Regions from separate parts of the Homo sapiens genome. Here region 1 is linked to region 2. A link means that fine-mapping ties the variant in region 2 to the expression of a gene that starts in the linked region. Tissue or cell type: monocytes after LPS. Region 2 holds a variant in brackets; the other region holds the start of a gene. All regions are shown on one strand. Distances are between the middles of the regions.

Region 1 (14,964 bases), 30 kb before region 2:
TATTTTGGATTAAGGCTGCTCAACGTGTGCTACTGGTCCCATTCTGCAGATGTGAAAACGAAGGCACAGAGATGTTAGGGGATCTGCCTCAACTCCCAGCCTGTCTGTGGAACTTTTTTTTTTTTTTTTTTTTTTTTGAGATGGAGTCTCGCTCTCTCACCCAGGCTAGAGTACAGTGGTGCGATCTTGGCTCACTGCAACCTCCGTATCCTGGGTTCAAGCCATTCTCCTGCCTCAGCCTCCCAAGTAGCTGGGACTACAGGTGCCCACCACCACGCCTCCTCTGCTCTAAATGCTCCCATGGCTGCCCTCTCCCGTAGAGAAAAAGCCCCAGTCCTCGCCAAGACTGCAGTCCAGGCCCGACCTGCCCTGGCCCCCTGTTTTTTCTCTCATCTCCAGGCAGCCACTCAGGTCTCCTTCAGATCTTGACTCTAACAGAGTGATGTCTTCTCCAGCAACTCTATGGGATGCTGCAACCCACCCAATGGCCTCTTCTGTTTTATCTGCTCACTATAGCCGCATAAATTTCTATATGTTTATTCTTTGCCTGTCTCCTCCTATACAGCAGGTAAACTCAGGGATTTTCTAAAAATCTCCCTTTCTGCTATGTCTCCAGTGCCTAGAATAGTGCCTGGCATGTAATAAGGGCTACTCCTAAAAAGGGGTCTGAGAGAAATGTCAGCCAGCCTGGAGCTGAGCAGACAAGACTGGGCTGAAAATACACATTTGGGGGTCGCTGGAGATTATAAAGAGATTATAATCGAAGTCATGGGAAGGGATGGAACTACTCCTGTTTTTTTTGCCAAATTCTCCATGTTACTATTTGAGGGCGAGAGAAATCCCGGGTATTCCATATACACTGTTAAAACTAGGCTGTCACTAAGCCCCTCTCCTTTGGATCATCTGGAATGGGGGGACCCATTCCCCCATTCCAGATGATCCATCCCACCCCTCTGGGATCCCCACCCGAGAGTCCTGAAGGCAGGGCACAGGCCGCCCTGGGAAATCTCCGAAATCCAGCCCCGGTCCGGGGATGTCTTACCCTCCAGTTCCAGCTGCACGGGGGGCGGCTCGGGGGGGCCCTTCGAGGGTCCGGGGCCCGCCTGCTGGCGCCCCTTGATGTTGTAGCGCCGGCGCAGCTTCCCCATGGCGACTAGGCCAGGGTGGGCGCTCCAGCGGCCGGACCAGCAGAGCAATCCGAAACCCAGCCCACGTGGGTTCCCAGACCACCAACTCCGGCCGTGAGACTTCCGGGTTGTGTTATCGCGAGAACTGTAACTGACTTTGCCGCTGAGGGGCGGGGTTGCAAGAGAAACCCAGCGAAGAGGAGAGGCGGAGCCGGGCCGGGCAGGGGGCGGGACTATTTAGAGAAGTAGGCGGGGCCTGAGGTCCCAGCGGAGGCCGGAGTTTAAGTCCTGGGCTGTTCTCGCTTGGGGTAGTCTGGGTTTAAATATGAATTATATCTACTGATACTAATTTGGCTTCTTGGGAGTGGAAGTGTTTTGCCACCTTTTAAAATATACCCCGCCCCCAGTACTCCAAACTTCTTCCCCCCAACCCTGGTTTGCGCATCTGTATTTTCTGATATTCCTACAAGAAACGTATTAGTCGTGTACTTTTAAAAAGGCACCAAATATTTCCATCACAGGGATAGATGGAAGATCTAAAAGGAGGCCTCTACGGGCGCGGTGGCTCACGCCTGTAATCCCAGCACTTTTGGAGGCCGAGGCGGGCGGATCACGAGGTCAGGATTTCAAGACCAGCCTGGCCAAGATGGTGAAACCCCCGTCTCTACCAAAAATACAAAAAAAATTTAGCTAGGCCTGGTGGCAGGCGTCTGTAATCCCAGCTACTTGGGAGGCTGAGGCAGAGAATTGATTGAACCCGGGAGGTGGACGTTGCAGTGAGCCGAGACTGCACCACTGCACTTCAGCCTGGGCAACAGAGCTAGACTCTGTCTCAAAAAAAAAAAAATAAAGTTGTCTATTACATAACTTTAAATTCCCATTACCGCATCACATTGTAACACACTGGGAAACAATGCATTATTATTATTATTGAGACAAGGTCTGGCTTTGTTGCCCAGGCTGGAGTGTAGTGGAGCAATCTCGGCTCACTGCAACCTCTGCCTCCCGGGTTTAAACGATTCTCCTGCCTCAGCCTTCCGAGTAGCTGGGACTACAGGTGCCCGCCACCACCCCCAGCTAGTTTTTGTATTTTAGTAGAGACGGAGTTTCACCATGTTGGCCAGGCTGGTCTCAAACTCCTGACCTCGTGATCTGCCTGCCTGGGCCTCCCAAAGTGCTGGGATTACAGGCATGAGCCACCGCGCCCGACTTTTTTTTTTTTTTTTTTAAGAGATGAGATCTCGCCCTGTGGGCCAGGCCAGAGTGCAGTGGTGCAATCACCACTCGCTGCAGCCTTGACCTGTCCTCCCACCTCAGCCTCCTGAGTAGTTATGACTACAGGCACACACCACCACGACGGGCTAATTTTTCTATTTTTTTGTAGAGATGGTGTCTCCCTATGTTGCTTAGACTGGTCTCAAAATTCTGGGCTCAAGGGATCCGTTTGTCTCGGCCTCCCAAAGTGCCGGAATTACAGGCATAAGCCACTGTGAAGGCCTTAATGAATGACGTTTAAAAAAATCATAATTAGCGTATCAAATCTATGGGGTTTTTTGTTTGTTTGCTTGTTTTTGTTTTTTTGAGACAGAACTCTCCCTCTGACGCCCAGGCTGGAGTGTAGTGGAGCAGTCTCGGCTCACTGCAACCTCCACCTCTCGGGTTCAAGCGATTCTCCTGTCTCAGCCTTCCAAGTAGCTGGGATTACAGGCACCCACCAAGATGCCCATCTAATTTTTGTATTTTTAGTAGAGATGGGGTCTCACCATGTTGGCCAGGATGGTCTCAAACTCCTGACATCAAGTGATCGGCCCACCTTGGCCTCTCAAAATGATGAGATTACGGGCCTGAGCCACTGCACCCAGGCTCAAATCTGTGTTTTTATGGATTTTGTTGCTCAGGATGATAGTGATCTAAAGTTTCTTCTTTAAATATGTTTATTTAAATAAATTAAAAGTTTAAGAAACGTTTAAAAAATGTTAAGTAGGTAGTAGTACACTTGCCTATATTTCCTTCTAAAATATAATATATCAGTGAATTACCTTCCAGAAGGTATAGACCATTCTAGACAGCAAGAAGAAGGCAGATACATAACAGCATGGATGGATCTCACAAATATAAAGTTGAACAAAAGCTGGGCGTGGTGGCTCACGCCTGTAATTCCAGCACTTTGGGAGGCCAAGGCAGGCGGATCACCTGAGGTCAGGAGTTTGAGACCAGCCTGGCCAACATGGCGAAACCTGTCTCCACTAAAAATACAAACATTAGCCGGGTGTGGTGGCGCGTGCCTATAGTCCCAGCTACACGGAAGGCTGAGGCAGGAGAATCGCTTGAACCCCGGAGGCGGAGGTTGCAGTGAGCCGAGATCATGCCACTGCACTCCAGCCTGGGCAACAGAGCAAGACTCCGTCTCAAAAAATAAAAAATAAATAAAAAAAAAAGTTGAACAAAAGAAGCCAACCCCCAGAGTACTGTGTGGTTCATTTACATAAACTTCAAACACAGGCAAATGAATCCCCTAAATTTTAAGAGGAACATAGTGAATGGGAGGGGACAAAGGGAGGCTTCGTGGGGGAACTGGTAATGTTTCGTTTCTTGATTTGGGTGCTGGTTACCTTGGGTATTCAGTTTGTGAAAATTCATAAAAATTTATATGATTGTGTATTTTTCTGTATGTTATACCTTAATTAAAAAGTTTATTATTATTATTATTATTATCATTTTTTATAGAGATAGGTTTCACTATGTTGGCCAGGCTGGCCTCGAACTCCTGTGTTCAAGCAATCCTCCTGCCTTGGCCTCCCAAAACAAGCTTGTGCCACTACACCTGGCGTAAAAAAAGGTTTTTGTTTTGTTTTGTTTTGTTTTTGGGACGGAGTTTCACTCTTGTTGCCCAGGCTGGAGTGCAGTGGCTTAGTCTCGGCTCACTGCAACCTCCGCCTCCCAGGTTTAGGCGGTTGTCCTGCCTCAGCCTCCCGAGTAGCTGGGATCACAAGCAGGCACCACCATAACTGGCTCATTTTGGATTTTTTTTTTTTTTTTTTTTTTTTTTTGAGACGGAGTCTCGCTCTGTCGCCCAGGCTGGAGTGCAGTGGCACGATCTCGGCTCACTGCAACTTCCGCCTCCCGGGTTCACGCCATTCTTCTGCCTCAGGCTCTGAGTAGCTGGGACTACGGCGCCCGCCGCCACGCCCGGCTATTGTATTTTTAGTAGAGACGGGGTTTCACTGTGTTAGCCAGGATGGTCTCGATCTCCTGACCTCGTGATCCGCCCGCCTCGGCCTCCCAAATTGCTGACCTTGTGATCCGCCCGCCTCGGCCTCCCAAAGTGCTGGGATTACAGGCGTGAGCCACGGCGCCTGGCCTCATTTTGTATTTTTAGTAGAGACGGAGGGATTTCTCCATGTTGGTCAAGCTGGTCTCGAACTCCCGACCTCAGGTCACCCGCCTCAGCCTCCCAAAGTGCTGGAATCACAGGCGTTAACCACCGCACCCGACCTACAAAAAAGTTTTTAAAAAGATAAACAATACAGGAAAAAATGTGCAAAGGATATGAATAGGTAATTCACAGAGAAGTAATTCAAATGGCCAATAAATCTATGAAAATCTTACTAGGAATCCAGAAAATGTAAATTCAAAAATAAGAGCATTTTGTATTCTTTGGATTGGCAAAAATTGAGTTTTATTTTCTTGGTTGTCTAAAAAAAATGTTGGTTAGACTTGATTTGTTTGATTTAGGATGCAAACAGGGTCCTTGCATTGCATGGGTTATTATGGCTCTTAAGTCTTTAAAACCAATTATCCTCCTCTTCGCTCACCTTTTATACCAATTATTTATTGAACAAACTGGGTCGTTTGTTTGGTAGAATGCCCCACATGCTGGAGTTGGTTGGTTGCTTCTGCTGCTTCTAAGTTTTCCTTATCTGCCATATTTCCTGTAAACTGTAGGTTTGATCTAGAGGCCCCATCAGGTTCATGCTCAACTTGTCTTGGCAAGAATCCATCGCAGGTGGCGCTGGTACTTCCTGGCACTAAGATCGATTGGCGGGACCGGGACTTCGCGGCTTAGCCCCTCCATTTTCAAGTTCCCCGCCAAACCCTCCCCTCTTGGTTGTACCCATTTCTGATGATCATCGCGTGAATCCATCATTCTATTGAGGGGTGCCAAATAATTTTCGGATTCTCTCATTCATCCTCATGTATTAGCTGGACTTTGTAAAAGAAAGTCCCTCCCCAACTATTTTGGGGCTCTGAAATACAGTTCATTCAGGAAGGGCAGGAGGATGCCTGATGCTTTCTTGTTATTTAAAATTTTCAGGATGAATGAGCTGATGCCCACGAGGGCGAATTTTGGGGTACCATTATAATACATTCAGGGAGATTACATATATGTCTATTTCATGTTTTTCAATCAGTTGCAGTCACTTTCCTGGTTGAAGCTGTTGCAAGTTTTACAGGCACGGGTTGCTTTTCCACGGATAAGTTAAAAAAGAGAATTTTTTTTTAAATGATGAGAAGCCGCACCGGGTCGGGGCAGGCTTCCGGGAGGCGGGCGCGGGGCCCCGGGGCCGGGTCGCGTTGGTCCCGCGCCGGGGGCGGGGCGCGGCGTGGGCTGGGCCGTGCGCCTTTGCGCGCGGGGCGGGGCAGGTGGCGCAGCAGCGGCGGCGGCGGCTGTGGGTAAAGGCGCGGCGCGCGGCCCCCGAGCGCGCCAACCTTGCCCTAGCCGGAGCCCGCTGCGGCCCAGCGCACGGCCCTCACCCCGCATCGCGACCCCGCGCCCCGCCGGCCGAGCATGGGCGCGCGCGCCTCAGGCGGGCCCCTGGCCCGGGCCGGGCTCCTGCTGCTGCTGCTGCTGCTGCTGCTGCTCGGGCTGCTGGCCCCGGGCGCGCAGGGGGCGCGGGGCCGCGGCGGCGCGGAGAAGAACAGCTACCGCCGCACGGTCAACACCTTCTCCCAGAGCGTCAGCAGCCTGTTCGGCGAGGACAACGTGCGCGCCGCTCAGAAGGTGGGCGCCGGGCCCGCGCCCGCGGTCACCTTGCCCCGGTCGCCACGCACCTGGCTACCGGGGCCGACCTGGGAGGAGCGCGGCCTCCGGGGCTGCCCGCCCGGCCAGCGCGCGGGAAGAGGGGGTCCGGCCTGCGCCTCGGGGCCTGCCGCCTGCGGCCCCCGCCGGGCCTGACCAGTGCGGGTCTGGGCGGCCGGGCCTCGGGGCGCCCTCTCCTCTGCGCCGCGCTTCTCCTTGGACCTTGCCTCCGCGGTCGGCGCAGCCAGAGTCTCTCCCGGCTGCGCTGACGCCTGCCGCGCGTCTCATTCATTCATTCACCGCGTTTGAATGGCTCCTACTGTGAGCCAGGCAGCACACTGGCGCTCTCGGTCCCCACGCGGCTGCGCCCTCCCCAGCTACCCCGGGTTTGTCCTAGCCTCGCATCCCGACCCACTTCCCCTGGGACCTTCTGCCCCACTCCTCCTCCTGCTTTGAAGATACTTGGAGTTGTTTTTACTTTACAGGAAAAGAAGGGAGCAATGCGATTTGCTCGGTGGCTTTGGGAAACCGAGCACCTACTGTGTGCGGGGCCTTTCGCGTGGAGCCTTTTGTTTAGTTTGGGGAGGTCCCGGATCCTGCAGCCTCCTGGGAAGGGTGTTGAGTCCCAGGAGGATCGCAGGGGGTTTTCCCCAATTCCTGCTCTCTGGAGCTAGGTGCGATAGGGGTGCCATTCCGGGCCGAAGTCCGCCGACTAGCTCTTGAGAAGGAGGAAGTTACTGGGGACAGTTGTGTGTGGTATTGCGGTTCCTTTGCTGTTCCCTGGGGAGGAGGGGGCTCTTGCTTGCCGCCAGCCTTCCTGGGGTTTTGGAGTCAGAGAAGTTTGGGTTCAAGTTGGAGCTCTACCAGTTGGATGACTTTGGGGAAGTGACTTCACTTCTTTGAGCTTGTTTCTTTATTTGTTAAATGGGGATAGTAATCATTCCCCTTCATTGCGAGGTTGTAATTATGACTAGTTGGTACCTTCCTGGCCCAGAATCATGGCTAAAAAGTTAAAGTTTTCTGCTCATTGAGAGGGAGTGGGGAATAGAAGGGAATATGAAGGCCGAAATCAGATTGACTGCATGTTCTTACTGGATAACATGAAAGGTTAATTTGTTAGGAAAACAGTAAGTTTTGACCTCCCTCTCCTGTGGGCAGGGGCACCTCTTGCACAGGTGGGTCTGTGTCTTCATACATGTAGGGGAGAGAACGCTTTGTAGGTGGCCAAAGAGGGGCAAGGAAGCAGGGCTGAACGCCTGAATGTGAAAAGGTTGCCCTGGAGTCTGGCGCGGGAAAGGATCAGGGGTGTGAGTGCAGGGAGTCTCACTTACTTCCTCTTGATGCCGTTTCGGAGCTATTTGAAGGCAGAAATCATTTGTTTTAGAGCAAAAATAAGCCTGTCTTTTTCACGCAGGGTGACCACAGGATCCCCATGTCTCAACTGACGGTGGTTCCATGTGACAATCTAAGGCCAACAAACATGAAATACGAGTGGTTATTTAAGACTTTTACTTAAATAAGACAATCTGTATTCTGGCAGAGCATCTCCGAATCTGGGGGTCAGAGCTCTTCCTGGGCTAAACCGGGGTTTGTGCCTTTAATAGAGATACTAATGATTACTAAGTGCTTTTGTAGATAGAATAATCTTATGTAATCCTTAGAATGACCCTGTGCAGTAGGTACTGTTACTGTTCCCATTTGACAGATGAGGAAACTGAGACACAGAGCAGTGAAGTGGCTGGTTTCAGGTCAGATGAGTGGCAGAGCCAGGATGTGAACCTAGGCAGAGTGGACATGGAGCCCACATTAGTATCTCTCGCCTGTTTTCCTGCTTCATGACCCCTTCCCTGTTCCCCGAGTCAGTACAGCATCCAGAGGCTGACCTGACTTCTTTCCTTTTTGTTTTTTTGAGACGGAGGTCTGGCTCTGTTGCTCAGGCTGGAGTGCAGTGGAGTGATCTCGTCTCACTACAACCTCCACCTCCCAGGTTCAAGCGATCTTCCCCACTCACCCTCCCAAGTAGTTGGGATTACAGGTGTCCACCAGCATGCCTGGCTAAGTTTTGTATTTTTAGTAGAAAAGAGGTTTCACCATGTTGACCAGTCTGGTCTCAAACTCCTGACCTCAAGTGATCCTCCCGCCTCGGCCTTCCAAAGTGCTGGGATTACAGGTGTGAGCCATTGCACCTGGCCTGACTTATTTTATTTCCTGCTGAGTGTAGCCCACACTGGCCAGGCTTGGGGATATTGTTTTGTTAATTTTATGGGTTTTTTTTTAAATTTAATTAATTAATTTATTTTTTGAGACAGACTCTTACTCTGTCACCCAGGCTGGAGTGCGTTGGCACGATCTTGGCTCACGGCAACGTCTGCCTCCTGGGCAAGCAATTCTCCTGCCTCAGCCTCCTGAGTAGCCGGGATTACAAGTGAGTAGCCGGGATTACAAGTGAGCACCACCACATCCGGCTAATTTTTTATGTTTTTGGTAGAGATGAGGTTTCATCATGTTGGCCAGGCTGGTCTCAAACTCCTGACCTCAAGTGATCTGCCGACCTCAGCCTTCCAAAAGTGCTGGGATTACAGGCGTAAGCCACCGTGCCCAGCCTGTTTTGTGAATTTTAAATAAAGGAAAACTGGGTCTGCCAGCAACTGTAGTTTTCAGCATGCCTGGGTTTACGAATTAGAGCCAAACCTGCTTTGTGAAGTTTAATGGTATTTAAAAAAACACCCCATAGTCTTTTTTTTTTTTTTTTTCCGAGATGGAGTATTGCTTTGTCGCCCAGGCTGGAATGCAGTGGTTCAGTCTTGGCTCATGGCAACCTCTGCCGCCCAGGTTCAAACAATTCTCCTGCCTCAGCCCCCTGAGTAGCTGGGATTACAGGCGTGTGTGCCACCATGCCTGGCTAATTTTTGTATTTTTAGTAGAGATGGGGTTTCACCATGTTGGCCAGGCTGGTTTCGAACTCCTGACCTCGTAATCCGCCCTCCTCAGCCTCCCAAAGTGCTATGATTAGAGGCTTGAGCCACCGTGCCCGGCCTCCCATATTCTAATCTAGGACTTGTCTGAAATACACCTATGACCATCCTGTTTGGAGCATGGGAACAGACATGAGTTTGAATCCTAGCTGTTTCTCACTCGCTCTGTGACCCTGAGCCAGTTGCTTTACTTCTCTTTTTTTTTTGCTTTACTTCTCTTTTTTTTTTTTTTTTTTTGAGATGCAGTCTCGCTTCTTCTCCCAGGCTGGAGTGCAATGGCGAGCTCTCGGCTTACTGCAACCTCCGCCTCCCGGATTCACGAAATTCTCCTGCTTCAGCCTCCCTAGTAGCTGGGGTTACAGGCAGATGCCACCACGACCAGCTAATTTTTGTATTTTTAGTAGAGACAGGGTTTCACTGTGTTGGCCAGGCTGGTCTCGATCTCATGACTTCAGGTGATCTGCCTGCCTCGGCCTCCCAAAGTGCCGGATTTACAGACGTGAACCACCGTGCACCACCCAGTTGCTTTACTTATCTGTGTCCCATTTGTTCAGAGGAGATAAATTGGGGAATTAAAGGAGATTGGTTGGGCTGCACAATGCCAGGGACTGAATAAGCATTTAGTAAATGGTAGAATATTTCTATATGAAGGGAATTTGTCTGGTAGGAGGTAATAGACTTGTTAATTCCTTTAAAAATTATTAAGTGATGCCCTGGCATGGTGGCTCACACCTGTAATCCCAGCACTTAGGGAGGCCAAGGTGGGCAGCTCATCTGAAGTCAGGAGCTCGAGACCAGCCTGGTCAACATGGCGAAACCCTGTCTCTACTAAAAATACAAAAATTAGGCCAGGTGTGGTGGCTCACGCCTGTAATCCTAGCACTTTGGGAGGCCAAGGTGGATGGATCACCTGAGGTCAGGAGTTCAAGACCAGCCTGACCAACATGGTGAAACCCTGTCTCTACCAAATACAAAAAATTAGCCAGGCGTGGTGATGCATGCCTGTAATCCCAGCTACTTGGGAGCCTGAGGCAGGAGAATCGCTTGAACCCGGGAGGCGGCCGTTGCAGTGAGCCAAGATTGCACCGTTGCGCGCGCCAGCCTGGGCAACGAGTGAAACTCCGTCTCAAAAAAAAAAAAAAAAAATTAGCTGGGCGTGGTGGTGCACGACTGTAATCCCAGCTACTTGGGAGGCTGAGGCAGGAGAATAGATTGAGCCCGGGAGGCTGACGTTGCGGTGAGGTTGAGTCGCCCCACTGCACTCAAGCCGGGGGAACAGAGACTCCGTCTCAAAAAAAATTATTAAGCAACTTATACACATGTGTTCATAGCAACACTTTTTACAATAGCTAAAAAGTGGAAATGTCCCAAATGTCTTATCAGCTGATGAAGGGATAAAATGTGATGTGTCTGTATAATGAAATATGATTCAGCCATAAAAAGGAATGAAGTATTGCTATATGCTACAACTTGGACGAACCTTGAATAAATGAGAGAAGCCAGTCACGAAAGGGCACACATTATATGATTCCATTTACAGCATATGAAATATCTGGAATAGGAAGATCCGTAGAGACAGAAAGCAGATGGGTGGTTGCCAGGGGCTGGGGGAGGGAGCAATGGGGGAATTACTGCTTAATTGATCTAGGGTTTCCTTTTGGGGTGATGACAGATTGTGGAACTAGATAATAATGGTTGCATGATATTGTGAACGTGCTCATGCCACTGAATTGTACACTTTAAAATGGTTAAAATGGCCAACTTTATGTGTATATGACTACAGTTTTTTAAAAAAATTGGCCTGGTGCAGTGGCTCACATCTGTAATCCCACCACTTTGGGAGGCCTAGGTGGGAGGATTGCTTGAGCCCAGGAGTTTGAGACCAGCCTGGGCAACATAGTGAGACCCCATCTCTACGAAAAACCAAAACCTTTGGCTAGGCATGGTGGCGCACACCTGTGGTCCCAGCTACTTGGGAGGTTGCATAGGGAGGATCGCTTGATCCTGGGAGGTTGAGACTACAGTGAGCTGTGATCACACCACTGTACTCCAGCCTCAGGGACAGCACAAAACTCTTTGTCTCCAAAAAAAACAAACAAATGAAAAATTTCAAGCACCTACTGTATGTGGAGAAAATGATTCCTCTCAGGCAGAATATAGCTGGACTGATGTGGTGGAAACATCCTGAATGCCAGGTCGAGAAACTAGTACTTTTTTCCCTTGCTCCTTGGTCGTAGTTGCATGGAATACAATTTCATGTAGTTCTGAAGGTTAAGAAACTAACTCCACTTCCCACTACCGACCCGTCTACCACCCCCTTCCCCGAAGCAGCCAGATATTCTGAACATGTATAAATATATGGATCTATAGATCTGCTCCCTATTGTTGGTTTTTGTTTATTTTGCACTATGCGCACTGTTTTGTATTTTTATTTTATTTTTCCCTGAAACAGAGTCTCCCTCTGTCGCCCAGGCTGGAGTGCAGTAGCTCAATCTTGGCTCACTGCAGTCTCTACCTCCCGGGCTCAAATGATCCTCCTGCATCAGCCTCTCAAGTAGCTGGGATTACAGGTCTGCACCGCCATGCCCTGCTAAGTTTTTTATTTTTTATTTTTATTTATTTATTTATTTATTTTTCTTGAGACGGAGTCTCCCTCTGTCGCCCAGGCTGGAGTGCAGTGGCGCAATTTCGGCTCACTGCAAGCTCCACCTCCTGGGTTCATGCCATTCTTCTGCTTCAGCCTCCCAAGTGGCTGGGACTACAGGCGCCTGCCACCATGCCCAGCTAATTTTTTTGTGTGTTTTTAGTAGAGACGGGGTTTCACTGTGTTCGCCAGGATGGTCTCGATTTCCTGACCTCGTGATCCGCCCGCCTCGGCCTCCCAAAGTGCTGGGATTACAGGTGTGAGACACCCGACCCAGCCTCATTAAACTTTTTGGCTTTATTATGTATGAGACAGATGGTCTTTTCATTTATTCAGAATCCATCGATATGTTCTGGGAACTGCCTTTTGGTTTTTCTTTTTTTTTTTTTTTTTTGCCGTTCTATTGAGCTGTTGGGTTCTTTTGTTTTTGCTTTTTTTTTTTTTTTGTAAAGAGGTTTGCATTTTTTGCTGTTTGCAAGAAAGTATTTTGAGCAAAATAACTTTGACACTTTCCAGTCCTTTTTCCCCTACCAACATTTTAACAGCTTTTTTGAGGTGTAATTGCACTACACCTCAATAGACTGTGCGTATTTAAAGTGTACAGGTTGACACCTTTTGACATACACACTTGTGAAAAATTACCACAGTTAAGATAAAGTTTCATATGATTTTTTTTTTTTTTTTTTTTTTTGAGAGGGAGTCTCGCTCTGCCACCCAGGCTGGAGTGCAGTGGCGCAATCTCGGCTCACTGCAAGCTCTGCCTCCCGGGTTCACACCTTTCCCCTGCCTCAGCCTCCCGAGTAGCTGGGACTACAGACGCCCACCACCACGCCCGGCTAATTTTTTGTATTTTTAGTAGAGACGGGGTTTCACCATGTTAGCCAGGATGGTCTCGATCTCCTGACCTCATGATTGCCTGCCTCGGCCTCCCAAAGTGCTGGGATTACAGGCGTGAGCCACCACGCCCAGCCTGTTTCCTATAATTTTTTATGTTGATAATTTTTCAAAGTACTAAAATGCTGAAAGAACAGAACAAGGAATAGCTGCAAACATCTCCCCTAAAGTCACCAGTTCTTACATTTCCCCTCAAACTTTTTTCTCTGCAAACACATCCGATAGACACATACACACATGCACACACATTTATTTTTATTTTTTGGCAGGATCATTTGAAAGTTAGTTGCAGACGTCTTAATACTTTTTCCTACAGAACCACAATACCATTGTCTCAGCCAAGAAACTTAAATATAGTACAGTATTTTGTAACAGATAGTCCATATTCAAATTGTCTTTATAGCTCATAAAAAATCCAACACCCAGTCAAGGACTGCTCATGCATTTAGTGTTCATGTCTCTAGTCTGTCAGAGTTTCCTCACTTTTGGTGGAGGAAGGGACTTAATTATGAATTTTTTTTTATTTTTATTTTTTTTTGAGACGGAGTCTTGCTCTGTCACCCAGGCTGGAGTGCAGTGGCGCGATCTCGGCCCACTGCAAGCTCCACCTCCTGTGTTCACGCCATTCTCCTGCCTCAGCCTCCCAAATAGCTGGGACCAAGGGTGCCCGCCATCACGCCCGGCTAATTTTTTTTGTATTTTTAGTAGAGATGGGGTTTCACCGTGTTAGCCAGGATAGTCTGGATCTCCTGACCTCGTGATCTGCCCGGCTCGGCCTCCCAAAGTGCTGGGATTACAGGCATGAGCCACCGCACCCGGCCCCAATTATGCATTTTTTTCTTTTAGACAAGCTCTCACTCTGTAGCCCAGAATGGAGTGCAGTGGCGCAGTCTCGGCTCGGTGCAACCTCTGCCTCCTGGGTTCAAGCGATCCTCCCACCTTAACCTCCTGAGTAGCTGGGCTTACAAGCATGTGCCACCATGCCTATTTATTTATTTATTGTATTTTTCGTAGAGACAGGATTTCTCCTCGAAATCCCTGTGTTGCCCAGGCTGGTCTCTTGACTCCTGGGCTCATGCGATCCTCCCGCCTTGGCCTCCCAAAGTGCTGGGATTATAGGCGTGAGCCACTTCGCCTGGCCCAGTAAGGGACTTTTACAGCATTGACATTTCTGAAGATCACAGACTAAATGTCTTTTTTTTTTTTGAGCTATAATTCATATACCATACAGTTTATTCATTGAAAGCTCAGCGGTTTGTAGTATATTCACAGTGCTGTACAGCTGTCACTACAGTCAGTTTTAGAACATTTGCATTACCCCAAAAAGAAACTCTGTACCCATTAGCAGTCACTACTTTTTTCCTTTGCCCCAACTCCCAGCCTTAAGCAACTGCCAATCTGCTTTCTGTCTCTATTTCTGAGCCTACTGTGGGCTTTTCATAGGAGTGGAGTCCTGTACAGTCTGGCCTTTTGTGTCTGGCTTCTTTCACTTAGCCTCATGTTTTCAAGGTTCATCCATACTGCAGGATCAATACTTTATTCCTCTTTATGGCTTTTTATTTACCTGATCATCAACTGATGCACATTTCGGTTTATGTCACTTTTTGTCTATTGTGAATGGATGCTGCTGTGAATATCCATGTGCAAATATTTGTGTGGGCATTGTTTCCAGTATTTTGCGGTGCATACCTAGGAGTCCAGTTGCTGGGTCATACAGGAACTTTTTGTTTAACACTTTGGGGAACCGTCACCCTTTTCCAAGGCAGATGTACCGTTTTACCTGCCTACCAGCATGTGGGGCCTGGTTTCCCCACATCCTTGTCAGCACTTGCTATGGTCTACCTTTTTAATTCTAGCCATCTTGGCAGACGTGAAGTAGTATTGCTGTGGTTTTGACAGTCCAGAACTGGTTTTTTTTTTTGTTTTGTTTTTTTTTTTTTTGAGACAGAGTCTCGCTCTGTTGCCAGGCTGGAGTGCAGTGGCACAATCTCTGCTCACTGCAACCTCCGCCTCCGGGGTTCACGCCATTCTCCTGCCTCAGCCTCCCGAGTAGCTGGGACTACAGGCACCCGCCACCACGCCCAGCTAATTTTTTGTATTTTTAGTACAGACAGAGTTTCACTGTGTTAGCCAGGATGGTCTCGATCTCCTGACCTCGTGATCCACTCACCTTGGCCTCCCAAAGTGCTGGGATTACAGGCGTGAGCCACCACACCTGGCCCAGAACTGTCTTTTGAAATGTCCCACAGTGTGTATTGTATTATTCTGATTATCTCCTCCGGGTTAGGCTCAGACTTAGCTTTC
Region 2 (14,964 bases):
ACTTTGCTTGAACAGTGCCTGTTAGGAGTTGAATTGTGTGTCCCCGTATTCATCTGTTTTATCTGTTGAAGTCCTAACCCCCAGAGCCTCAGAATGGGATGCTATTTGGAGATGGGGTCATTGTGGGTGTCATTTGTTAAGATGAGGTCATACTGGAGTAGGGTGAGTCCCAAATCCAATGTGACCGGTGTCCTTATACGAAGGGGAAATTTAGACACAGACACACGTAGGGAGAAGGCCACGTGAAGGCAGAGTAAGAGAGAGGAGTGTGTCTGGCAGTCACGGAGTGCCAAGGATCACCAGCAATCCGCAGACACTAGGAGAGGCCCGGGCAGATTCACCCTCGAGCCTCTGGAGCCAGCCCTGCTGACACGCTGTTCACAGACTTCCAGCCTCCAAACAAACTGAGAGAATAAACTTCTGTTCTTTTTTTTTTTTTTTTTTCTTTTCTTGAGATGGAGTCTTGCCCTGTTGCCCAGGCTGAAGTGCAGTGGCGCTATCTCGGCTCACTGCAGCCTCCGCCTCCTGAGTTCAAGCGATTCTAGTACCTCAGCCTCCCGAGTGGCTGAGATTACAGGCACATGCCACCAAATCTGGCTAATTCTGTTTTTGTTTTTGTTTTTGTTTTTTTGAGACAGAATGTTGCTCTGTTGCCCAGGTTGGAGAGCAATGCCGCAATCTTGGCTCACTGCAACCTCCGCCTCCCGGGTTCAAGCGATTCTCCTGCCTCGGCCTCCTGAGTAGCTGGAATTACAGGCACCCACCACCACGCCTGGCTAATTTTTATATTTCAGTAGAGACGGTATTTCACCATGTTGGCCAGGCTGGTCTCGAACTCCTGATCTCAGGTGATCCACCTGCGTTGGCCTCCCAAAGTGTTGGGATTACAGACATGAGCCACTGCGCCCGGCCTTCTACTCCTTTTTAGCTACTTGGCCATGGCAGCGCTAGGGAAGTCAGACGGTGCCCCTTTGCTGTCAGAACGTGCAGGGCCACTCGTGTTTTCTTTAGGATTTTCAGGGCCTCGGAGTGACGTTGCTTTGGACCACCCTTCCTTGGTTTAAAGGACAGCTTTCACTGAAGTCACCGAGAGGTGGAAGGCAGGGGTGGCATTCTCGTCTCTGGGCATCTTTCCTGGCTGATCACTATCTTGGCCCCTTGATGACACGATGCTTCTCAAAGTATGCTCAGAGGAACCCCAGGAGGTCCCTGAGACCCTTTTGGTTAGGAGGGGTGACTGTGAGTTCCTCTCTTCTCCCGTAACATGTCTCTGAGGTCAGGGATTCAGTACGTACTTTAATACTTCCATATATATTGATGCCACGTTAAGATGATGACATTTTAGATAGATTGGATTAAACAAAATATCTTATTAACATTAATTCCACCCTTTTTTTTTTTTTTTTTTTTTTGCCTTTTTTGCTGTGAGTACTTGAAAATTTTCAGTGACAAACATGGCTCACATTTGTGGCTGGTGTTCTGTTCCTCTGAATTCAAAACCAGATTTGGGGGCCAGGTCTCCTCTAAATAGCTAGATAGGAAAGAGACTGGCAAACATTCAAAGCACTGCCACTGTTCTCAGAGTGGTTTGTTCTGCTTTAGAAACAGTTGCTTTTTGTGAAAAATATTTTGTGTTAACCTATTGTCTTGGTCAGTTCAGGCTGCTATAACAAAATTCCATAGACTGTGTGGCTTATCAACAACAGACTTTTTTTTTTTTTTTTTTTTTTTTGAGATGGAGTCTCTCTCTGTTGCCCAGGCTGGAGTGCAGTGGCGCAACCTCAGCCTCCCGGGTTCCAGTGATTCTCCTGCCTCAGCCTCCTGAGTAGCTGGGATTACAGGCATGCACCACTATGCCCGGCTAATTTTGTATTTTTTTTAATAGAGACAAGGTTTCGCCATATTGGTCAGGCTGGTCTCGAACTCCTGACTTCAGATGATCTGCCCACCTTGGCCTCCCAAAGAGCTGGGATTACAGGCATGAGCCACCGTGCCCGGCCTAACAGACATTTTCATTTCTTACAGTTTGGAGGCAGGAAGTCCAAAATGAAGGCACTGGCAGATGCAGGCTGTGGGGAGAGCCCTTTCTTGTAGACGATGCCTCACTGTGTCTCACATGAAGGAACAAGGCGGTTCTCTGGGACCTCTTTATAAGGGCACTAAACCCATTCATGGGGGCTCCACCCCTACGACCTGATCACCTCCCCAGGACCCCACCTCCTAAGACCATCACTTTTGGGGTTAGGATTTCAACATAGGAATTTTGTGGGGGACACAAATACTCAAAGCCTAGCATCTGTAATGGGTTGTTATTTGAAAATGAGTTAATGATAGCAATGTTTTTAAATTATTAACAATGGCTGGACACAGTGGCTCATCTGGTAATCCCAGCACTTTGGGAGGTTGAGGCAGATGGATTGCTTAAGCCCAGGAGTTTGAGACCATCCTTGGCAACACAGTGAGACCCTGTATCTACAAAAAATCAAAACATTAGCTTGGTGGTGCATGCTTGTAGTCTCAGCTACTTGGGAGGCTGAGGTGAGAGGATCGCTTGAGCCCAGGAGGTAGAGGTTGCAATGAGCTAAGATCATGCTACTGAAGTCTAGCCTGGGCTACAGAGCAAGACTCTGTCTCAAATAAATAAATAAATAAATAATAAAATTTAAAAGATAATTAACAACTAATTAAAAACTACCTAATTTTCTGCTATGGAAAATATATCAGTTAGGTAGAACCCACATAAACGAAAGCTCTGGGGACGCTTCAATAATACTGAAGAGTGCAAACGGTCTTGAGACTGAGAGGTCTGGGAAACACTGGTTTAGCCTCCAGTCTGCAGGGGACAGGTGTGAAAGTCAGCTCCCAAGTCAACCACATTTAGTCAAAATGCTCACGATGCCTCAGGAAGGCACAGTGTAGCAAACACACTCTGGCTTCTGGGGAGTCCTGGTGACCCCAAGCCTTTAGTCCCAGAGATGGCTGCTGTTTACAGTGTTGGACTCTAGACACTGGCCAGCTGTGCGGAGTCTGATCATTTTGGGGAACTATGAGATGTTCACGCCGTAGGTGTCGTTATTGACCGGAGGAGCTCCAGGGTTGAGGCTTCCCATCTCAGGCCTGCTCTGGATTTGCGCTTGCCCACTCCAGATCGTTGTGTCACACTTTGGTCCTCTTTGGCTGGGCGTGGTGCCTCACACCTATAATCCCAGCACTTAGGGAAGCCAAGGCAGGCAGGTTGCTTGAGCTCAGGAGTTCGAGACCAGCCTGGGCAACATAGCGAGATCCTATCTGTATTTGCTGGTTTCCACACTGCTATAAGGAACTACCTGAGGCTGTGTAATTTATAAATAAAAGAGATTTAATTGACTCACAGTTCCACATGGCTGGGGAGGCCTCAGGAAACTTGTAATCATGGCGGAAGGCAAAGGGGAAGCAAGGCACGTCTTACGTGGTGGCAGGAGAGAGGAAGCAAGAGCGAGGGGTAAACTGCCAAACACTTTTAAACCATCAGATCTCGTGAGACTCACTCACTTTCATGAGAATAGCATGGAGGAAACCACCTCCACGATCCAATCACCTCCTACCAGGTCCCTCCCTGGACACGTGGGGATTACAATTTGAAATTAGATTTGGGTGAGAACACAGAACCAAACCACTTCACTGTCTCTACAAAAAAATACAAAAATTAGCCAGCTGTGGTGGTGCATGCCTATAGTCCTAGCTACTCGGGAGTCTGAGGTGGGAGGATCGCTTGAGCCCAAAAGGTCAAGGCTGCAGTGAGCCGAGATCACACCATCACACTCCAGCCTGGGTGACAGAAAAAGACCCTGTCTTAAAAAAAAAAAAAAAAAAAAAAGACCACAGATTCTTGGGCCCACCCAGGACCTACTGAATCAGATGTCCTGGGGGTGGGGCCCAGCAACCTGTTTTCCTAAGCCCTCCAGGGGATTCCTGGAGGAATCACACAAGTTTGAGAACTGCTTGTGTGAGAAGGCTTAGGATATAACTCTCCTTGAACTCATTAAACAACACTGTCAGGAAACAAACAATTGCAGCATGTGGGACCTCCTGCAAGAAAACCATCCTGGAAAAATTAGACTTCAGAATTTCAGTGTTTCTAAAATGTCATGGGTCTCTTCTCAATTAATGGAGACTAAAGTGATGGCAAATGCTGAACGTGAACTGTCGCTGGGTCCTGGTGAGGGTTGGGAGGAAACAGCTATTCCTGGATAACTGAGAAATTCAAGTGATGTTATATGGAATTGTTAATTTATTATTTATTTATTTATTTATTTATTTTTTGAGACAGAGCCTCACTGTGTCTCAGGTTGGAGTGCAGTGGCGCCATTGGCTCACTGCAACCTCTGCCTCCCTGGGTTCAAGCGATTCTCGTGCCTCAGCCTCCCAGGTAGCTTGGATTACAGGTGTGCGCCACCACGCCCAGCTAATTTTTATATTTTTAGTAGAGATGGGGTTTCACCATGTTGGCCAGGCTGGTCTCAAACTCCTGATCTCAGGTGATCCACCCACCTTGGCCTCCCAAATGCTGGCATGAGCCACCGTGCCCAGCCTGGAATTGTTAATATTCTTAGAATGATGATAGTATCATGGTTTTGAGGTGAATGATGTCTTTATTCTTAGATGTATGATGAAGTATGATGTGTACATCTTTCAAATGGGTTAATCTAAAAAGTATGTAAATAGAGAATGCAACATTCAGAATTTTTAATAATTGTTCAGTCTAGTTGGTTTCAAAAGGAATATTCTACTGTTCTTTTAACTTTTTTGTTTGAATTTCTTCAAGTCAGGCACACAGAAGATGCTACTCTTACATTTCACTGCATTCTTGAGATGGAACTTCGTGTGTGGGTACCAGTTAGGATCAGGTTTGGCTGAAACAGAAATCCAACATAACATTGGCTTAACCAAGATGGACACCTATTTCCCTCTTATATGAAAGTTCTCAGGGAGGTGGTGAGGCGGGTTTGATGGCTCTGATGCATGTGGTGCTCTGGACCAAAGCACCTTCCATTTTATTGTTCCTCCATGAGTGCCTTCCAAAATGGCTGCTCCAGTTCCAGCCATTGTATCCATGTTCCAGCAGGCAGAAGAGGTAAAGGACACATTCCTGCTACTTTTAGGGAACACATGGCCAAAGCTTAGTTATGTAGCTGCAAGAGAGGCTAGGAAATGCTTTAATCCTAGGTAGTTGTGTGCCCAGCCTGAAGGTGGGCATTTGTTACTATGGAAATTGAAGGACAATTTGCAGGCTATGCCCCACTTCCAGAGGTGTTTTAGTAAAAGGTGAAAGTTGTCTTTTGAGACAAAGTCTTACTCTGTCACACAGGCTGGAGTGCAGTGGCACATTATGGCTCACTGCAGCCTCTACCTCCCAGCCTCAAGTGATCCTCCCACCTCAGCCTCCTGAGTAGCTGGGACTACAGGTGTGTGCTACCACACCTGTCTAATTTTTTTAAAATTTGTGTTCTCTAGAGATTGGGTCTGTATTAGTCTATTTTCACACTGCTATCAAAACATACCCGAGGCCAGGCGCAGTGGCTCACACTTGTAATCCCAGCACTTTGGGAGGCTGAGGAGGTGGATCACTTGAGGACACTAGTTCAAGACCAGCCTGGCCAACATGGTGAAACCTCATCTCTACTAAAAATACAAAAATCAGCTGGGTGTGGTGGCATGTGCCTATAATCCCAGCTACTTGGGAGACTGAGGCAGGAGAATTGCTTGAACCTGGGATGCAGAGGTTGCAACGAGCCAAGATTGTGCCACTGCACTCCAACCTCAAAAACACAAACAAAAAAACCAAAAAACCTGAGACTAGGTAATGCATAAATAAAAGAGGTTTAATTGACTCACAGTTCTGCGTGGCTCAGGAAACTTATAATCATGGCAGAAGGCAAAGGAGAAGCAAGCACCTTCTTCACAAGGCAGCAGGAGAGAAAGAGAGAGCAAAGGGGGCAGCTGCCAAACACTTAAACCATCAGATCTCATGAAACCCCCCCCCCTCCACTGTCACAAGAACAGCATGGGGAAACCACCCCCATGATCCAATCACCCCCCACGAGGTTCCTTCCTCCACACGTGAGGATTATAATTCAAGATGAGATTTGTGTGGGAGCACAGAGCCAGTCCATATCAGGGTCTCACTATGTTGCCCAGGCTAAAGGTGAAAGATGTATATGATTTGAAGAGAAACCAGTATATGGAGAGGTTTTTAAAACTCAACATGGCAGGTCGTCTTAAAGGGCTTCCCTGGCTGGGCATGGTGGCTCATGCCTGTAATCCCAGCACTTTGGGAGGCCGAGGCAGGTGGATCACCTGAGGTCAGGAGTTCGAGACCAGCCTGATTAACATGGAGAAACCCCGTCTCTACTAAAGATACAAAATTAGCCGGGTGTGGTGGCGCATGCCTGTAATCCCAGCTACCCCGGAGGCTGAGACAGGAGAATTGCTTGAACCCAGGAGGCGGAGGTTGTGGTGAGCCGAGATCACACCATTGCACTCCAGCCTGGGCAACAGAGCAAGACTCCATCTCAAAAAAAAGAGGCTTCCCTGTGTGTCCTCATGGAGCAAAGTGTGACTATTCACAGAGGAACTTCCTTGAGTTCCTTTGGTTGTTGCAAAGGCCTTTTAAGCCCCACAGGCCAGCTCAACTATCCAATTCTAGCTTGTTAAGAAACCCCTGGCCCCTGCGTAACGAGCCCTGTTCCTCTTTTCTGTCCCGCAGTCTCCAACCTGTCCCAGTATTTCAGCCCAGCCTCGGTGTCCAGCAGCCCGGCCCGCGCGCTCCTGCTGGTCGGCGTCGTCCTCCTGGCCTACTGGTTCTTGTCCCTGACCCTGGGCTTCACTTTCAGCGTCCTGCACGTGGTGTTCGGCCGCTTCTTCTGGATCGTGCGGGTCGTCCTGTTTTCCATGTCCTGCGTGTACATCCTGCACAAGTACGAGGGCGAGCCGGAGAACGCGGTGCTGCCGCTGTGCTTCGTGGTGGCCGTCTACTTCATGACCGGGCCCATGGGCTTCTACTGGCGAAGCAGTCCCAGCGGCCCCAGCAACCCCAGCAACCCCAGCGTGGAGGAGAAGCTGGAGCACCTGGAGAAGCAGGTCAGACTGCTCAACATCCGTCTCAACCGGGTGCTCGAGAGCCTGGACCGCTCCAAGGACAAGTGAAGGTCAGCCGGCCGGGCGGGTCCACAGTTACCAGCACGCTGTCTCAGAAAACGAAAACGGAGGAAAAAAACCCCAAACCCCAAACAATCTTAATAAACACGACTGAGCAAGAAAGTGGCGCTGTGTA[G/A]GGCTATTTCCACCCACCCGGCAGCTCTTAGGACACATTCCCAGAAGAGCGGAAAGATCATTGACGTGGAACTACACACGAAGTGTAATTAGTGGGGGAAAAAATATTTTTTAAACAAAGGATATAACCATATTTAGTTGTACAGTAAGAGAAATTTATCTGTGCATAGAGCATAAAGTTAATTTTTTCAAGCATTTAAATACATCTTTTGTAAGGTTTTTTAATAAAGGCAGATTGAGTCAAGTTTATTAAAACTTTACATGGAGGGGAAGAATATGCTAATTTGACATTTGAGAAAAGTTTAAATGCGAGCGTTTGTTTTCACAGCTTAGGGATTGGTGGGTGAGGTCTGTGTGCGTTATTTTCATGTTCCCAAACTGTGAGCTTTATTTCATGTTATTTTTGGTGGATGTTGACTTAGTTCATGAATGTTGTCACTTCTAAATGTGGACAGTTGGGCTGCAGGATGCAACTCAACCTCTTTTGGATCCTAGAGACCCCTGCCAAGCCCCCATCAGTCCTATTTTTAAATGAAGACATCGCCATTTCTAGAAGACCTGAGATTTTCTTCCCTCTGTGCTTCGATGTATTTTAACCTCAACATTTTGAAACGGAAAATGCAAGGAGGGGCCAAGAAATGTCCTGGGGATTTGATGCCAGGAAGTACCTGGTAAGGATTGGAGATTGCTCCAGAATCTACTGCATGTCCCAATTTGCAGTTTGCTCACTAGGGCTATATACAAAAGCTATACCCTTGAGGGTTTTTTTTTTTTTCTTTTGATTTCCTCAGGACCTTAGAGGGAAAACAAACAGTAGCAGCTAATATTCTCAAGTATATTGCTGCTTAGAAAGATCCTCAGGAACAATTAGCAGCAATAAGCAAGCCTTTGAAAAGATCTGAATTCTTTTTCCTGAAATATTTACGATACACAGGTGCTTTTTATCTGAAATCTGTTGTGTCCTCCTTTTAGGCAGTCTCTGTGGGCAGAGAGTGGGACTTGCGAGGTGGACAGCTGTGGGGATCCTGGGCAAGGGAGTTTCAGAAGGTGTGGCTCAGGGGCTGGTAGAAACCCCCTTTTGTTAGGACTTGTTTTTTAAAAAAGAAAGCCCTAGGCCAGGCGCAGTGGCTGATGCCTGTAATCCCAGCGCTTTGGGAGGCCGAGGAGTATGGATCACCTGAGGTCAGGAGTTCAAGACCAGCCTGGCCAACATGGTGAAACCCCCGTCTCTACTAAAAATACAAAAATTAGTCAGGCATGGTGGTGGGTGCCTGTAGTCCAGCTACTCAGGAGGCTGAGGCAGGAGAATTGCTTGAACCTGGGAGGTGGAGGTTGCGGTGAGCCGAGATCACGCCACTGCACTCCAGCCTAGGCAACAGAGCAAGACTTCATCTTAAAAAAAAAAAAAAAAGCCCAGCATTTTGCAGCTTTGAAGCTGCTGGGGATCACGACTGTCTCTGTGGCCCTTACCTGGCCACAGATGTACCCTGGCAACCCGCTCACAGTGCCCTGCGTGCAGGTTTATAGATAACCCCTGCCAGACCTGCTACAACCAAGACCTTATGGTCCAGGTCTCAGTTTGGAGAAGATTTAGCTGTCTACCACTTCTTGTGTAGTGTTCCTGTGAAGTTTTATTTTTGGTTGCAAGTATCTGGAAAACAGATGCAGATGTTTTTGTGGATGTTGTTGAGACTTTTGAGACTTCTGTTTCTAAGGTACACATGATGGGACCCAAACTCTCCTGGAGAGTTCCATTCACTTCCTGAAACGTGCACCTGTTTCAGGTGCATGTTTATTCAGTGTGCATGGATATTTAAGATTTGCTGGAGCAGGCTGGGCAGGGTGGCTCACCCCTATAATCCCAACACTTTGGGAGGCCAAGGCAGGTGGATCACCTGAGGTCAGGAGTTTGAGACCAGCCCGGCCAACAGAGTGAAACCCCGTCTCTACTAAAAATACAAAAATTAGCCAGGCCTGGTGGTGGGCGCCTGTGATCCCAGCTACTTGGGAGGCTGAGGCTGGAGAATCGCTTGAACATGGGAGGCGGAGGTTGCAGTCAGCTGAGATCATACCACCACACTCTAGCCTCAGCAACAGAGTGAGACTCCGTCTCAAAAAAAATTATTTGCTGGATCGAATCTTTTTTTTTTTGAGATGGAGTCTCACTGTCAACCAGGCTGGAGTGCAGTGGCACCATCTCGGCTCACTGCAAGCTCCGCCTCCTGGGTTCACGCCATTCTCCTACCTCAGCCTCCCAAGTAGCCGGGACTACAGGCGCCCACCATCATGCCCGGCTAATTTTTTATATTTTTAGTAGAGACGGGGTTTCACCGTGTTAGCCAGGATGGTCTCGATCTCCTGACCTCGTGATCCGCCCGCCTCGGCCTCCCAAAGTGCTGGGATTACAGGCGTGAGCCACCGCGCTGGGCCTAGATCAAATCTTTATCCATGCACATTGGAACACAGGATTACTGGGTTGAAATCATTCTAGTTTTGTCATTTAGATACTTGTAGATGAATCTATTTTAGCACAAGGTATAAATAACTCGGGAGGTCATCTCTATCTTCTTTCCTTTTGTGCATTTGGCTATACCACGTTTAGGTACTAAAACAGCTTTGCTTATGTTGGCCAGGGGAAAACATGGCATTCTGTGCGCAAAGCTAATGATCGCCAGCCCTGCCTTGGCCCCTCCCTTGTTTATGGTCATTGTAAGATGCCCGCATGTTAAGGCTTAAGCTGTCACTGGGCTGGGTGTAATACCCGCTTCATTCCTCCTCCCACCCTCTTACCCGAAACATGAAGGGCACTGTGCTCTATTGAGATCTCGATAAGATCATCATTTTAACTTGTATTCAACTGAGGGAGGTAACATGATATCTGGGTGCTGGTGGATTGAGACCTCAAGCATCAATTCAAAATTGCTGTCGAAAATATGCACTATTTTTTTTTTCCACTCTGGCTAAGTGTAGGCTCTGAAGCCAGTTTTATAGCTTGATACATTCTGGTGAAAGATGTCTTCATTTTTAATGAAAGAACCTACAGTTAGTAGGTGTCACCTCAGGGTAGAAATTCTGATAGAAATTCTGATTATTTGAAACTCTGATAGAAATCCTAGATGCTAGATTTGAAGAAAACCTGGGTTTTATTGCATAGATTTCACCTTTTCTGGGGCACATCTTACCCCAAAATAATTGGGGATTTTTTTGTTCCTTCTCCATTCCATGGAACCTTGTAGGGTGTTGGGATTGGGCCTCCCCTCGCCACCCGCCACATGTCTTTGTTTTTTTCTCTCTTTTGTATGTGGAAAAATGTATTTTTGTACCATATCTCATACCTGGAGAGAAACCTTTTTTCTATCTTCAGGGCTGTAGAATATATTAGCGTAACACTTCACTGAATGTGACGTAAAAGCATTCTGATGAAAACTGGTTCTGTTATAATTAAGACTCAGTGTTTAAAATATCTTAATCAGTGTTAATTTCCCAGTGTTTCAGTATCACAGTAAATACTTGTTTTACTGAGAACAGAAAATAATCCAGAAAAGGAAAAGGACCAGCCCTCTCTAGATTGCTGGAATTGTATGGATGTGTTGGGGTTGGTTTAGTGATCTCTTCCTTGACACCCTAGCAAAGATGCTTTTGTGGAGTGCAAACCTTTCATAAATATACTTTCCAGGCTGGGTGCAGTGGCTCAAGCTTGTAATCCCAGCACTTTGGGAGGCCAAGGCGGGTGGATCACTTGCGGTCGGGAGTTCGAGACCAGCCTGGCCAACATAGTGAAATCCCGTCTCTACCAAAAAATACAAAAAAAAAAAAAAAAAAAAAAATAGCCAGGTGTGGTGGTGGGTTCCTGTAGTCCCAGCTACTCAGGAGGCTGAGGTGGGAGAATTGTATGAACCTGGGAGGCAGAGGTTGCAGTGAACTGAGATCACACCACTGTACTCCAGTTGAGGCGACAGAGTGAGACCCAGTCTCAAAAAAAAAAAAAAGTGTGTGTGTGTGTATATATATGTATATATATATACACACACACACACTTTCCAATACCAGTCGGCATTACCCGCCCTTTGGTTTCTTTTGCTTTGGATTTCAGCCCCCATATCATTTCTGGTAACAGAGCACAGCAATAGAATTTCTGGGAAGCAGACCTTGTGAATCGTGCCTGTGTCTTAATTCACAAAGGGTAAGTGAATGCCGTTGAAAGGTGTTTCATACACTTACCCCAGAAATGAGAGCCTGTCTCATGCAGGAGTCGGGAGGCAGCGATGTCAGGGAACTGGGACTATGTCTTTATGACTGTGATGGTGGTAACCAAGTGGGGTGGTCCCCTCTGGGGAGCTGAGTAAGAACGCAAAGGTTTGGGTCAGTGATTAGGAAGACTATAATATGACTTTGTGCATGCCCGGGAGGGCTGCCTTGTAGAGAGGATGTGAGCAGCTTAGTCGCTCATCTGGCCCTGTGATTCAGGCTTATGGAGCGTTAAGAATAACAGCTGTCAAATGGCCTAGACATGGTTAATGCAATTTGTTGCTAGTGGAAATCCTGAATTGCTTCCTTTCTGTGATCACTGCTACTTCTTAAGATGCTTTTGATGAATGTCATCTGCCTTACAAGTTGACACCTGATAACTTCTCCCTGATGGGTTTCCGAACTGGCTGACTTAACCAAAAAGCCAGCTCTTGCCATCTATCTTGCATTAAAAGGAATTCCTGAGGCTCCTAAGGGGTCAGCTGCCCCACTCCTGACTTTTTTATTTTTAATGGTCTATACCTTCTGCAACATTTTTGTTTATGGCCATTTGAATAGTTGGACTTTGACTCCTCACTTGTGAATAATAGGAATATATTTTGCAGAATCTAACATAATACCCTTAAAATTCATACTGGACAACCATCAGTGTGATGTATAGTATCTGGTGTAAACAAATTTTATTCAGCATATTAAATTATTCTGTGTTTTGCTTTTCCTTGATATGTAGGAGGTGCACCAGTACCAGTTTTTCTCTTGTGGTGGCTTAAAACGCTGATTGCCATTTGCATTGTCTACTGAAAAGCTGTGGCAGCGAGTGGTATTATTGACCATGTGTTCTCATGTCTTTTTGCAGATTTAAAGGTTTTATTGTAGTGTCCATTTAATATCTGCATGTGTGTTTAATCTCTGAATACCATGTAATTAAACTGATTAACTTGTGATGGTGATGGTGATTAGCACACACTAAAAACCCAATGAAGCAATTGTCTCCCTCTTCTTAACTGGAAATCACACTTGTGAGGTATGGTATCCATTATCAACAGTGGATTCATGATTGACTTCATATTTTGTGTATCTGGTTATAAATTTTGTATAGCATTTAATTTGGCACTTAATATAAATCCATTTGATTTGAATAGTGTGTGTGTGTACATGGTGTGTGTGTGTGTGTGCACTTTAGTTTCGTGAGCCTTGGGAAACTGATTCTACAAATATCTTATATAGAGATAAATGTATCAGGCATTTTTTTGCAAAGCGATATATACATTCCTCTTATTTATTAAATCACTGGCTTTGGTGTTATGTAGAGATATTTGTAGATCTCAGAACAGAATTAAAATATTGTGAAAATTACAGCTTAATAAATGTTTATTGTAATTTTGTTGTATGGACTTTTAAAATATATCTCATCACTTCTAACCAAACATTTGTGGAGTTTCCCCAGTTTTGATGTGTAACCAGGATTCTATGGTTCTATTCCTCGATCTGAGAAGAGTCATAAAACCTTGAATTTATGTATTCAGTTGGAGGTAAGGTTGCAAGATAAAATACAGGATGCCCAGTTAAATTTGAATTTCAGATAAACAACCAGTAGTGTTTTAGTATAGTGTAGAAGTGTTGGTTGCTTATCTGAAATTCAAATGTAAGCAAGTTTCCTGTATTTTTAGTTGCCAAATCTGACAGTCCTAGCACAGTGATGCGTGCCTCTCCACCCCACCCCGCATACCCATGCTGCTTTCTCAGGTCCTAACAATCCTTTTCTTTCTATTTTTTTTTTTTTTTTTTTTTTTTTTTTGAGATGGACTCTCACCCAGGCTGGAGTGCAGTGGCGAGATCTCAGCTCACTGCTGCCTCCATCTCCTGGGCTCAAGCGAGCATGTCCGGCCAATTTTTGTATTTTTAGTAGAGATGGGGTTTCACCATGTTGGCCAGGCTGGTCTCCAACTCCTGACCTCAGTGATCCGCCCGTTTCGGCCTCCCAAAGTGCTGGGATAACAGGCGTGAGCCATCATGCCCAGCCTTAAAAATCCTATTCTTAGTAAACATTTAGGAGCAAATGTAACAGGAGTATAATTTACCTTGACCAAGTATAATTACTCTTAACCCAAGAGTACTGCTCCTGCTTTTTACGCAAAGACAATCTCACATAGGTCGATAAGGGGACAATTTGAGGCTAGTTATTGTGAAGTTATCTGGGGGCAGCCTGGGTGGCCTGTCACTGGGAAAGCAGGCAGGTGAGCGGGGGCGGTGAGGCACTGGAGGACGTGCAGTAGGTAGTAATGACAGTAACAGCGTGGGGTGAGAAGGAAACCAGAATGAGGAGGGGCAGCTCATTTGAATAAAGTCAATACCTGCTATTAAAATAATCATTTTGGCCGGGTGAGGTGGCTCATGCCTGTAATCCCAGCACTTTGGGAGGCCGAGGCGGGCGGATCACGAGGTCAAGAGATCTAGACCATCCTGGCTAACATGGTGAAACCCCGTCTCTACTAAGAATGCAATTAGCCGGGCGTGGTGGCAAGTGCTTGTAGTCTCAGCTACTCGGGAGGCTAAGGCAGGAGAATTGCTTGAACCCAGGAGGTGGAAGTTGCAGTGAGCTGAAATCGCGCCACTGCACTCCAGCCTGGGCGACAGAGTGAAACTCCGTCTGAAAAACAAACAAAAAAAATTACTATTTTGTGGCCGGGTGCAGTGGCTCACGCCTGTCATCCCAGCACTGGGAGGCCAAGGCAGGTGAATCGCTCGAGTCCAGGAGTTCAAGACCAGCCTGGGCAACATAGTGAGAACTTGCCTCTACGAAAAGTAAATAAATTAGTTGGGTGCAGTGGCGCCTGCCTGTGCCTGCAGTCCCAGCTACTCGGGAGGCTGACGTGGGAGGATCGCTTGAGCCCAGGTGGTTGAGGCTGCAGTGAGCCATGATTGCACCACTGCATTCCAGCCTGGGGAACAGAGTGAGATCCTATCTCAAAATATAATCATTTTGTAAGAATGCATTGAAAGCAACATTCGAATTAAACACCATAGGCCGAGGAGGAGGAGGGAGTGGGTTATCGGATGGGGATTAAGAGGAATGTCAAGTACAAGAGGAATGAGACTTCACAGGAGAAGTCACCGAGGGCAGTGTTCCTCGGACCTAGAGGGTGCCGGGAACCCTGCCCCAGCCTGACCAGCTACAGCCTCACCATCTCCCACTGCCCCTTCTGCCCGCTGCCAATCCCGCTGCAGCCCCAGAGCAGCTGGCGGCATTGCTACCAGCCCCTTTGCACCTATGAAGGAAAAATAGAATCTCGGGATCTCAAACTCATTATGCCAAGGGCAAAGTTAAGCTTGGGAACTGAGCCACAAAACAAACAAACAAAAAAAACAAACACAAACTTCCTTCCTTTGCTTCCCAAACAGATA

Direction of the effects. Alleles are on the strand shown, and positions count from the first base shown. SD is a standard deviation of normalised expression in the study named.
In carriers of allele A in region 2, the expression in monocytes after LPS of the gene that starts at base 5,771 in region 1 tends to be higher than with G alone (moderate effect, 0.64 SD a copy in Fairfax 2014).

What was found. PIP is the estimated chance that this variant, and not a neighbour inherited with it, causes the effect.
Region 1: it holds the start of BRI3BP, and the variant in region 2 is fine-mapped to the expression of BRI3BP in monocytes after LPS (Fairfax 2014, PIP 0.95). The same link has a PIP of 0.9 or more in monocytes.

What each region holds. Positions count from the first base shown.
Region 1 is chr12:124,987,875-125,002,838 of GRCh38, forward strand. It overlaps BRI3BP (BRI3 binding protein), which reads left to right and starts at 5,771. Exons shown (of 3, transcript NM_080626.6): 1 at 5,771-6,129. The coding sequence starts at 5,917. DHX37 (DEAH-box helicase 37) reads right to left here and starts at 1,257. Exons shown (of 27, transcript NM_032656.4): 1 at 1,043-1,257. The coding sequence starts at 1,148. RefSeq lists silencers at 5,601-5,920, 5,941-5,990, 6,091-6,140, 6,151-6,400, 6,411-6,470 and 1 more and enhancers at 4,341-4,841, 6,561-6,650, 7,831-7,970.
Region 2 is chr12:125,018,246-125,033,209 of GRCh38, forward strand. It overlaps BRI3BP (BRI3 binding protein), which reads left to right. Exons shown (of 3, transcript NM_080626.6): 3 at 6,746-12,986. The coding sequence ends at 7,185. It overlaps THRIL (TNF and HNRNPL related immunoregulatory long non-coding RNA), which reads right to left and starts at 9,178. Exons shown (of 1, transcript NR_110375.1): 1 at 7,198-9,178. The variant G/A (reference allele first, on the strand shown) is at 7,313.